Homo sapiens: one gene and its partners. The protein of the gene in region 2 purifies or fractionates together with the protein of the main gene of each other region. This does not show direct contact. Each region holds a gene or a part of one and is shown on either strand. Other genes may lie near its edges.

Region 1 (2,873 bases), on a different chromosome or scaffold from region 2:
GTGTCCCCAAAGTATCTTTTGTAGTGTGTTTTTTCTTTGGTGATCCATGATCCAGTTCATGGTTTACACATTGCATTGTCTGTTATGTGTCTTTAGTCTCACCCTGTGTACAGCAGAACTCATCCCCCCACCCCCTCGCTTCCCTTTTCTCTTCATGATGAATGAATCCTTTGAGTCCAGGTCAATCATCCTACAGAATGTTCCACATTCTGCACTTGTCTGATAACTGTCGTATTGTATTACTGTACATAAAAAATGTGAGAGTATTATATTAAAAAGAAGCTGAGATACAGGGGTTGGGTGAGTGTTAATAATACTATGCTCATTTTGCCTTCAGGATCCAGTTACAGAATGTTTACAAAATATGTAGGGAAACCCAACAATTGCCTAGTGATCTTGGATATTAGATATAGGATATGGTGCATTGAATGAGAATAGTTTATGAATATAGGTAATAGCGTTAAAAAATCTGAAACGTAATATACTCCATTTCAATAAAAAATATATTATTGTAGTGATTTCTATGTTGTATGGAACTTTTTATTATATTTATTATATTTTCAATCATTGCAGGATTATCTGTTAATAAAATATTAATTTTGCATACAATTAAAAGGTGTTAATGTGTAGCTTACTTGTTTATAGATTAACCTCTGTTTATATCTTTTAACTCAATTTTATTTAGAGTTGAACATTTCTAATAATTGAGATGGTTGAAACAACACCTGTTTTGAATTAAATTTACTTAAAAATTCTTTTTCTTTTAATGCTTTTTTTGTCTCAAGTCATCTGTTGGTTACTGCAACACATATGTACTGTTTAAGGGAGATTGTTTCACGGAAAGGATTGGCTTATATACAGTCTCGACAAGCGCTGAATTCTGTAGTTAAAATTACATCCAAAAAAAAACATCCTGAACTCATTACCTTCAAGTATGGAAATAGCAGTGCTTCAGGAATAGAAATCTTGGCAATCGAAAGGTAAGATTTTCCTTAAGATAATATTATCTGAATTCAGATATTATCTGAATTACTGTAGTTCACTATAAAGAGTTTGTTTCTTTATTTTGGGGAATGGATGGTGGAATAGGATAGCTGAACCACTTTTAGTGTTTCTTATCTCTTTCTCCGGAGTCCTTAGTCATGTGTGGTTTAGCCATTAGCACATGATTTGAGTAAGTGCCATAGCTAATTTCATAAAGTTTCTGACCCAAGGATCCTTATTGTTAATCTGTACCAGTGCTGCACTAATTGCTGGCTTGCAGAGAAATAAGAAACTTGTTTTAGAATATGTTGATATTTTTATTTTCCTTCATCGAAAAATTCTTGTTTTGACAAACTGTCAGTGAACTAAGCAGTGTGCTGGGTGATATAGGTAATTTACAGCCTGGTACAAGCCCCCCTTTGTCTCATTGTGGGTCACTAACAGTTCACAGACTGGCCCAAGAGCTGTGGACCACACTGATATTGATACTAAACCATTTTTTAATTATAGATAAAAATATGAAGCCCAGAGGGGTGGAATGACTTCCCAGATCCTAACACTTAGTTTGTGACAGAACCAAATATAGCCTTCCTGACTCCTGATTTGTGGTTTATTATACCTTGCATCAGTTCAAGTTGTTCCCCCACTGGGATTTAGGATTACACTTATTATTTACAGGAGTGCTTGGATAAATAGTAAGCTTAAGGTTATATCGCAGCACTTTTAAATAATCAACTTCAGTTGGAAGAGGAAATTATTCAGCTTCTTTCATCTTGTACTGACAATTAGGTAGCAAACATCATGAATCTATACTGTTTTATGTAATTTGTTAAAAGAAAATAATACCTGATTTGTAAAAAAAAAAAAAATCACTTCATTGCTTTATGTAAGAATAAATATTTACATAGTGATATTTTCAATTAATAATATAAAGAATATGTCATTCTAATTCTCTGTTAACACATTGATGTGTATCTTCTCAGATTTTTTTTAATGCATATGTTATTTCTCTACTAAAAACTAGATAAATGTGATATAGGCTTGTTTTTGTGTTCTGATTTTTTAAGAAAATAGTATAGTGTGAATATACTTACATTTTAATAAATATAAATTTTTTAAAATTAATTAATTAATTTTTTTGAGACGGAGTCTCTGTCACTCAGGCTAGAGTGCAGTGTTGCAATCACGGCTCACTGTAAGCTCCGCCTCCCAGGTTCACACCATTCTCCCTGCCTCAGCCTACCGAGTAGCTGGGACTAGAGGCGCCCGCCACCATGCCCAGCTAATTTTTTTATTTTTAGTAGAGATGGGGTTTCACCGTGTTAGCCAGGATGGTCTCCATCTCCTGACCTCGTGATCCACCCACCTTGGCCTCCCAAAGTGCTGAGATTACAGGAGTGAGCCACCGTGCCCGGCCCAATAAATATAAATTCTTAGCTTTTTAATGGTAGATATTCTGTTATAAGGATTTCTCAGGAGATTGATTTAACAAGCCTCATGTTGATTGGCATTTACATTGTTTTCATGTGTTTCACTATTAATCTTCTAGTGGGCCTTTAAAAACATGTATGTTTACATAGTTGTCCAATTAGTCTTCTCAGGATAAATTCCTGCAAGTAGATTCAATGGGTGAGAGGTATACACATTTTAATATCTACTTATAAATTAATCCTAACCAAAGGAGATTTGAATTATGACTCTCTCATGTATAGTAAAAGTTGGGAATTGTGTTTTAAAGGCTTTCCCACAAATTTTGCTAAATAAATTGAAGTTTATTATATATGGATCAACATCTTTTTTTTTTTAATTCAGAGTTTTGGAAGATAGTCTTAATAGTGGAAGATAAAGTAACTAGATTCTCTCTCTCCCTTTCTTCATTGATATTTATG
Region 2 (3,091 bases):
GGAAGGAGCAGGGTGGGGGAGGATCAGAAGCCCAGCTCCGAGCAAGTGAGTTTGGGGCGTTTTTCGACAATTGAGAGTACACAGCTGGAGACAGGAGTCTGGAGCCCAGGCGAGAGGTTCAGGCTGAGCCCAGGAAGCTGGGAGCCCCTGTATGCAAACTGTTCAAGCCCATGAGCATGAATGAGACCCCAGGTGAGTACAGACTGAGGAAACCTACCAGGCTGGGGGCTGAACTGGAAAATCCTGCTGTCCTGGTTGGAGAGAGTCTCAGGGAAGTGTCCACCAGTGCCCAGACACCCCAGCTCTCTCCCAGACCTCTCTCTCACTTCCTCAGGATCCAGCAGTGTGGTGCAGTATCCATATAGTTCAGAACCTCGTCAAATGTTGGCCCTTGTCCGAGCGCAGTGGCTCACACCTGTAATCCCAGAACTTTGGGAGGCCGAGGTGGGTGGATTGCTTGAGGTCAGGAGTTTGAGACCAACCTGGCCAACATGGCAAAACCCCATCTCTACTAAAAATACAAAAATTTAGCCAGGCGGGGTGGCGCCTGCCTGTAATCCCAGCTACTTAGGAGGCTGAGGCAGGATAATCGTTTGAAGCCGGAAGACAGAGGTTGCAGTGAGCCGAGATCACGCCACTGCACTCCAGCCTAGGCTACAAAGTGAGACTTTGTCTCAAAAAAAATTAAAAAAATAAAAAAACTGTTGGCTCTTACTGTGAGTGAGATGGGAGCTGCCTGGCCTAGCAAGGGACTTCCAGGACCTGTTTCCACTAAAGCTGGCAGGACTTTTTCTCCTCCGGGTACAAAGACTGGCCTGCCATGGAGCTTCTCTTCCAAGGCATGATCTGACTTAGGTTTTAAAAGGATCATTCTGGGGCCAGGCGCGGTGGCTCACACCTGGAATCCCAGCACTTTGGGAGGCCAAGGCGGGCGGATCGCCTGAGGTCAGGAGTCCGAGACCAGCCTGGCCAACATGGTGAAACCCTGTCTCTTATTAAAAATAGAAAAAGTAGCCGGGTGTGGTGGCGGTCACCTGAAATCCCAGCTACTCGGGAGGCTGAGGCAGGATAATCGCTTGAACCCAGGAGGTGGAAGGTGCAGTGAGCCAAGATTGCACCACTGCACTACAGCCTGGGTGACAGACCAAGACTGTCTTGGGGCTGGGGGGCGGGGGTGAGAAGGATAGTTCTGGGTTCGGGTAGGGGGGAGGTGAGGGAAGGAGTGGGAAAGGGGAAATCAAGGCAGCATCGAGGGTCGCTCACCCCTTACCTGTATTTCTCTCTCTACAGATACATCAGCCCACAGCAAGGCGGGCTCCAGCAGCCCGGAGCCATGGGCCCGGCCCTCCTGCACTCCCCAGGAAGGGGGCTGCCCACGGCCCAAGGAGCGTGAGTCACCACCCCCTTCGGCCCTGCAGCCGGTCCAGCTGCCTCGCCTGGCCTTGTCTCCACCACCCCCAGCCCCTCCACTGCCACCCCCACCGCCACTGGCCCAAGTGGCACCCTCACCCCCTAGCCCCCCACCCCCTCCTCGGCCTCCACCCACGCTCTCGGCCTCAGACCCCTCCCTGGACTTCCTGCGGGCCCAGCAGGAGACTGCCAACGCCATCCGGGAGCTGGCCGGCACCCTTCGACAGGGACTGGCCAAACTGAGCGAGGCCCTCAGCGCTCTGCTGCCCCTTCTGCCAGGAACCCCAGTTGACTCCCTGCCTCCACCTCTGCCCCCACCCCCACCCCCACCGCCACCTCCCAGGCCTGTCCTGCCCCCACCGGCCCCCAAGGTGGAGATCACCCCAGAGCCCGTGTCCGTGGTGGCTGCTGTGGTGGACGGGGCAGTGGTGGCAGCCAGGGGAGTGATCATTGCCCCAAGGAGCGAGGAGGGGGCACCCCGGCCCCCCCCAGCCCCGCTCCCTCCGCACGACTCCCCCCCACACAAGCGGAGAAAAGGTTTCCCTACACGGAAAAGGCGCGGCCGATGGAAATCTCCGTGAAATCTACTATCTATGATCCTGCCTGCAACCCCTCTCCCCAGCTTGGCGCAGTCGAGGGGGGCGATGCTCTCTGCCCATCCCAGCTGCACCCTAGCTCCCTGCTCCAGGGATGTGAGCACCCACTCCCTGTGCTAGTTAGTGCCTGATTCTCTGGGGGGGGCCTCAGTAATGGGCCCCCCCAACCCCTTTCTCTGGTACAGTGCTGTCTGCCTGGCTGCCTCCCTTAACCCTGACTTCTAAGCCATCAATTTCATGTTATTTATTATTGCCCTATGTGGGGTGGGGAGGGAACCTCTCGGGTCTGCACATCTCCCCTTCCCTAACAGTTCCTGTTCTTGACTTGAAGAGAATTGACCCGTGGGGGACTCCCCACCTCCCCAACCCAGACTTTGGAGCGGGTGGGAGTTGTAAGACAAATCAAAATACGGATGACAAAGAGGATATAGCCGTGTATACCCCAGGGAGAGGAGGCGCCGAGTTCTGATGGGAGAGGTACAGGTTGGGTTCTCTGCCTACCATTGCTGTCTCTGACTTCCAGAGCTCAACCCCCTCCTTTCTCCCAGTGGTGACAAGATATCAATAAACTTATTTTTAATACAATTACTTGAGGCTCTGTCTGAGACAGGCCTGGGGGACCAGCACCTACACCTGCCCCGCCCCCTCCACAGGCAGGCAATTGGGAGGCTGGTGGTTTTCCAGCTTTTTTTTTTTTTTAATTCTTAAAGCCATCAAGTCTTGTGTTTACATGAAATCTTATTCCTACTCTTCCTTTAGATACCAGTCTAAATGTCAACTCCAGGAGAAAGTCCTAGATTCCTTCCCCAAGGCTAACGTGGGTTTGCCTCTTAGAGTCTCTTTCAGTGTCCTGTGGTTCTTTTTCTTTTTCTTTTCCTTTCTTTTCTTTTCTTTCCGTTTTTTTGAGATAGGATCTCGTTCTGTTGCCCCAGCTGGAGTGCAGTGGCATGATCACAACTCACTGTAGCCTCGATCTCCCAGGCTGAAGCAATCCTTCTGCCTCAGCCTCCCAAGTAGCTGGGACCACAGGCATGTGCCACCATGCTCAGCTAATTGTTTTATTTTTCTAGAGATGGGGTTTTCTA
Region 3 (3,500 bases), on a different chromosome or scaffold from region 2:
ACAAAAAAAATTAGCCGGGTGTGGTGGCGGGTGCCTGTAGTCCCAGCTACTTGGGAGGGTGAGGTAGGAGAATGGCATGAACCTGGGAGGCAGAGCTTGCATTGAGCCAAGATTGTGCCACTGCACTCCAGCCTGGGTGACAGAGCAAGACTCCATCTCAAAAAAAAAAAATTAGCTGGGTGTGGTGGTGTGCACCTGTAAACCCAGCTACTCAGGAGGCTGAGGCAGGAGAATTGCTAGAACCAGGAGATGGAGGTTGCAGTGAGCTGAGACTACCACTTCATTCCAGCTTGGGCAACAACAGTGAAACTCCATCTCAGAAAAAAAAAAAATATCTGCATATAACTTTCAACTTAGCCAAAACTTAACTACTAATAGCCTTCTGTTTACTAGAGGCCTTACTGATAGCATAAACAGTTGATTAACACATCTTTTGTGTTATATGTTATTATATACTATATTATTACAATAAAGTAAACTAGAGAAAAGAAAATGTATTAAGAAAATTATAAGGAAGGCCAGGCACAGTGGCTCATGCCTGTAATCCTAGTACTTTGGGAGGCCGAGGAGGATGGATCACTTCAGGTCAGGAATTCGAGATCAGCCTGGCCACCATGGTGACACCCCATCTCTACTAAAAATACAAAAATTAGTTGGGTGTGGTGGCGTGCAGCTGTAGTCCCAGCTACTTGGGAGGCTGAGGCACAAGAATCGCTTGAACCCGGGAGGCAGAGGTTGCAGTGAGCCAAGATCATGCCACTGCACTCCAGCCTGGGTGACAGAGTGAGACTTGGTCTCAAAGAAAAATATAAGGAAGAGAAAGTATATTAACTATTCATTAAGTGGAAGTAGATCATCAGAAAGATCTTCATCATTGTCTTCACGTTGAGTAGGCCGAGAAGGAGGAAAAGGAGGGGTTAGTTTTGCTGTCTTAGGGGTGGCAGAGGCAGAAGAAAATCTACGTATAAGTGGACCCACGTGGTTCAGACCCATGTTGTTGTTCAAGGGTCAGCTGTAATTCGTTTTATGATTAATCACTAGTAGGGGAAATATCTAGAAGACTTGGTGTTAAGGGAAGCTAACCTCAGATTTGAAGTCATCACTGAGGGCTGGCCATGGTGGCTCACGCCTGTAATCCTAGCACTTTGGAAGGCCAAGGCGGTTGGATCACCTGAGCACAGGAGTTTGAGACTAGCCTGGCCAACATGGCAAAACCCTGTCTCTACAAAAGATACAAAACTTAGCCGGGCATGGTGGTGGGCACCTGTAGTTCCAGCTACTCAGGAGGCTGAGGTGGGAGTATCACTTGAGCCCTAGAGGTGGAGGTTGCAGTGAGCCAAGATTGCATCACTGCACTCCAATCTGGGCAACAGAGCAAGACTCTGTCTCAAAATAAATAAATCATCACTGAGTGCCCTGAAAGTGAATAATTAATGTGATGCAGTTAATGCAATGCAACTGGACCTGGTTGCATTGATAAATGAGTTTTAACTGGGACTTTGCCACCAACTATTATGTTGTCTGGCTTTGTTTTTCCACCTTTTTGAGCCTTGGTTATTAAGAACATTGAGAATAGGTGAGGAAGGAGGAAGGCTAGTAAGGAGCAGATTATAGGAAGAGGTTATCGGGGATTTGGTTAAGGAAGGTAGAGATGAGATCATGGCTCACTCCAGCCTCCACCTCCTGGGCTCAAGCGATCCACCCATCTCAGCTTCCAGAGTAGCTGGGACTACAGTGTGCACCACCACACCCGGCTAATTAAAATACATTTTTTTTTTTTTTTGTAGAGACAGGGTTTCACTATGTTGCCCATGTTGGTCTTGAGCTCCTGGACTCCAGTGCTCCTCCCACCTTAGCCTCCCAAAGTGCTGAGACTACAGGCATGAGCCACCATGCCCGGCCCGAGTTTCAAAAAATACTATAGAAAATAGTTTGTATAATTCATCCCCCCCACCCCAACCCCCACTTGATGAGAGTGGCGTGAATCTAGAAATGACAACATGTGGCTGTGGCCAGACTATAGCAAACAAAAAGCCAGTGAGCATTGAAGGTGATGCTCATGTTTCACTTGTGAAGACGAAACATCTTGGGCCGTGATTAGGAAAGATAGGCAAAGGGGGTGGAAATGATAAGTTTAATTATGATAATAGTATCTTATCCCCCATGCTTCTACATAATAGCTATTGTTCTTTCTGTTTTTATAGATTAAAATATTGAGGCCTAGAGAGCTTAAATTAATTGCCTAAAGTCACATGGCTGTAAGTGATAGCACATTTTAAGATTGCATCAGGACATAGAATAAGACTTAGTTTCCAATTCTAGCAAAGCCCATTATAGAAATCACTAGGATATACAGGAACTAGCGTGGTGGGTATGAGGTTGTTTGGGTTTTGAGGTGCAGCATTTGTTGCAGAGCCTCCTGCTTTGACGTTGTTCTGCCTGATAATTAAAAGCCCTACCCTCTGCCTGCTGGGCTGCTGCAGGGGCCAGGCATCACTGTCGCCTTTATACTCTGACTCTTTTTTCCCCCTTTCCTGCTTTCAGGATGAGGCCATTCCTCAAAATAGTAAAAAGGCCACACAGTGAAGCCTGTACCCCCCAGGTTTGATTTCAGAAAGCTTTTATTCAACTTAATGACAGTTTATTCTTTCAAAACAATATATTGAAGTATTACACAGAGTTCACTATTGTTTCATAATGTCATATGATGTAATGCTAATGCTGGTGGGTGATCTGCAGAGGCAGTGGCTGGGCGAGTTTGGGGCTATTTGTATGACTGAGGTAATGTTTGCATTTTTAATAAGCAAGCAGATTCTTTCTTTGGCCTTAACCCTTTTGCATAAATATACCAGAGTATAATTTATGCTCCATAATCCAAATATCTGTTCCTTTTTTTATCAAAGGGATTTCTGTTTTTCATAGCAATGTCTGAATTAGTAATTTATTTTGACATGTAAAGCATTTTATAGGAAATGAAAGATTAGAAAATTAGAAAGTAGCTACAAATGGCTGTGACAGAACACAAAGGCAAAATAGTAGATTTGATGTAAGTTAGCAAGATTCCAAGAAGTTAACAAACCCTGTATAGATTTCTTACTTGAAATTCAACCACTCATATTTTTTAATGAATCCCACTCTATTGTATGTCATTCTAAAGAAATGAAATATTTGCAAGAGAAAAGTAATATGGTTGGTGTTTTATATATAAAGTTACAAAAATAATTATTCACTCTTAGTAGATGAATATGTGCATATTTACACACATGCATGCATGTGACATTCTTTCCAACCGATCTGTCATTTTTGTTACTGACCTTGGATACAACGTAAGAGATTGTATTGCTGCCTATGGAAGGGGCTGTTTTTGTTAATAACAAGGATGATCAAACATATACAGTGTAGATACTGAAGTGATACTAAGCAGCTTTGTTGGGAGTTTGGTGTTTGGTTGTTAAGAACATGATGCATGTGAAGTAGATTTTGATAATTAAAAGGAGCCT

The links.
Region 1: the proteins of MYPOP (region 2) and TBC1D23 purify together in Homo sapiens (affinity purification with mass spectrometry; one large-scale study listed by BioGRID and IntAct). This does not show direct contact.
Region 3: the proteins of MYPOP (region 2) and BORCS5 purify together in Homo sapiens (affinity purification with mass spectrometry; one large-scale study listed by BioGRID and IntAct). This does not show direct contact.

What each region holds. Positions count from the first base shown.
Region 1 is NC_000003.12:100,319,992-100,322,864, forward strand, and holds part of TBC1D23 (TBC1 domain family member 23), read left to right. Parts: intron 1-785; coding exon 786-980; intron 981-2,873. UniProt on the Homo sapiens protein: Putative Rab GTPase-activating protein which plays a role in vesicular trafficking. Involved in endosome-to-Golgi trafficking.
Region 2 is NC_000019.10:45,889,523-45,892,613, reverse strand, and holds the end of MYPOP (myb-related transcription factor, partner of profilin), read left to right. Parts: intron 1-334; coding exon of another isoform or gene 335-444; intron 445-1,290; coding exon 1,291-1,991; 3' UTR 1,992-2,591; downstream 2,592-3,091. UniProt on the Homo sapiens protein: Transcriptional repressor; DNA-binding protein that specifically recognizes the core sequence 5'-YAAC[GT]G-3'. Dimerization with PFN1 reduces its DNA-binding capacity.
Region 3 is NC_000012.12:12,363,578-12,367,077, forward strand, and holds part of BORCS5 (BLOC-1-related complex subunit 5), read left to right. Parts: intron 1-3,500.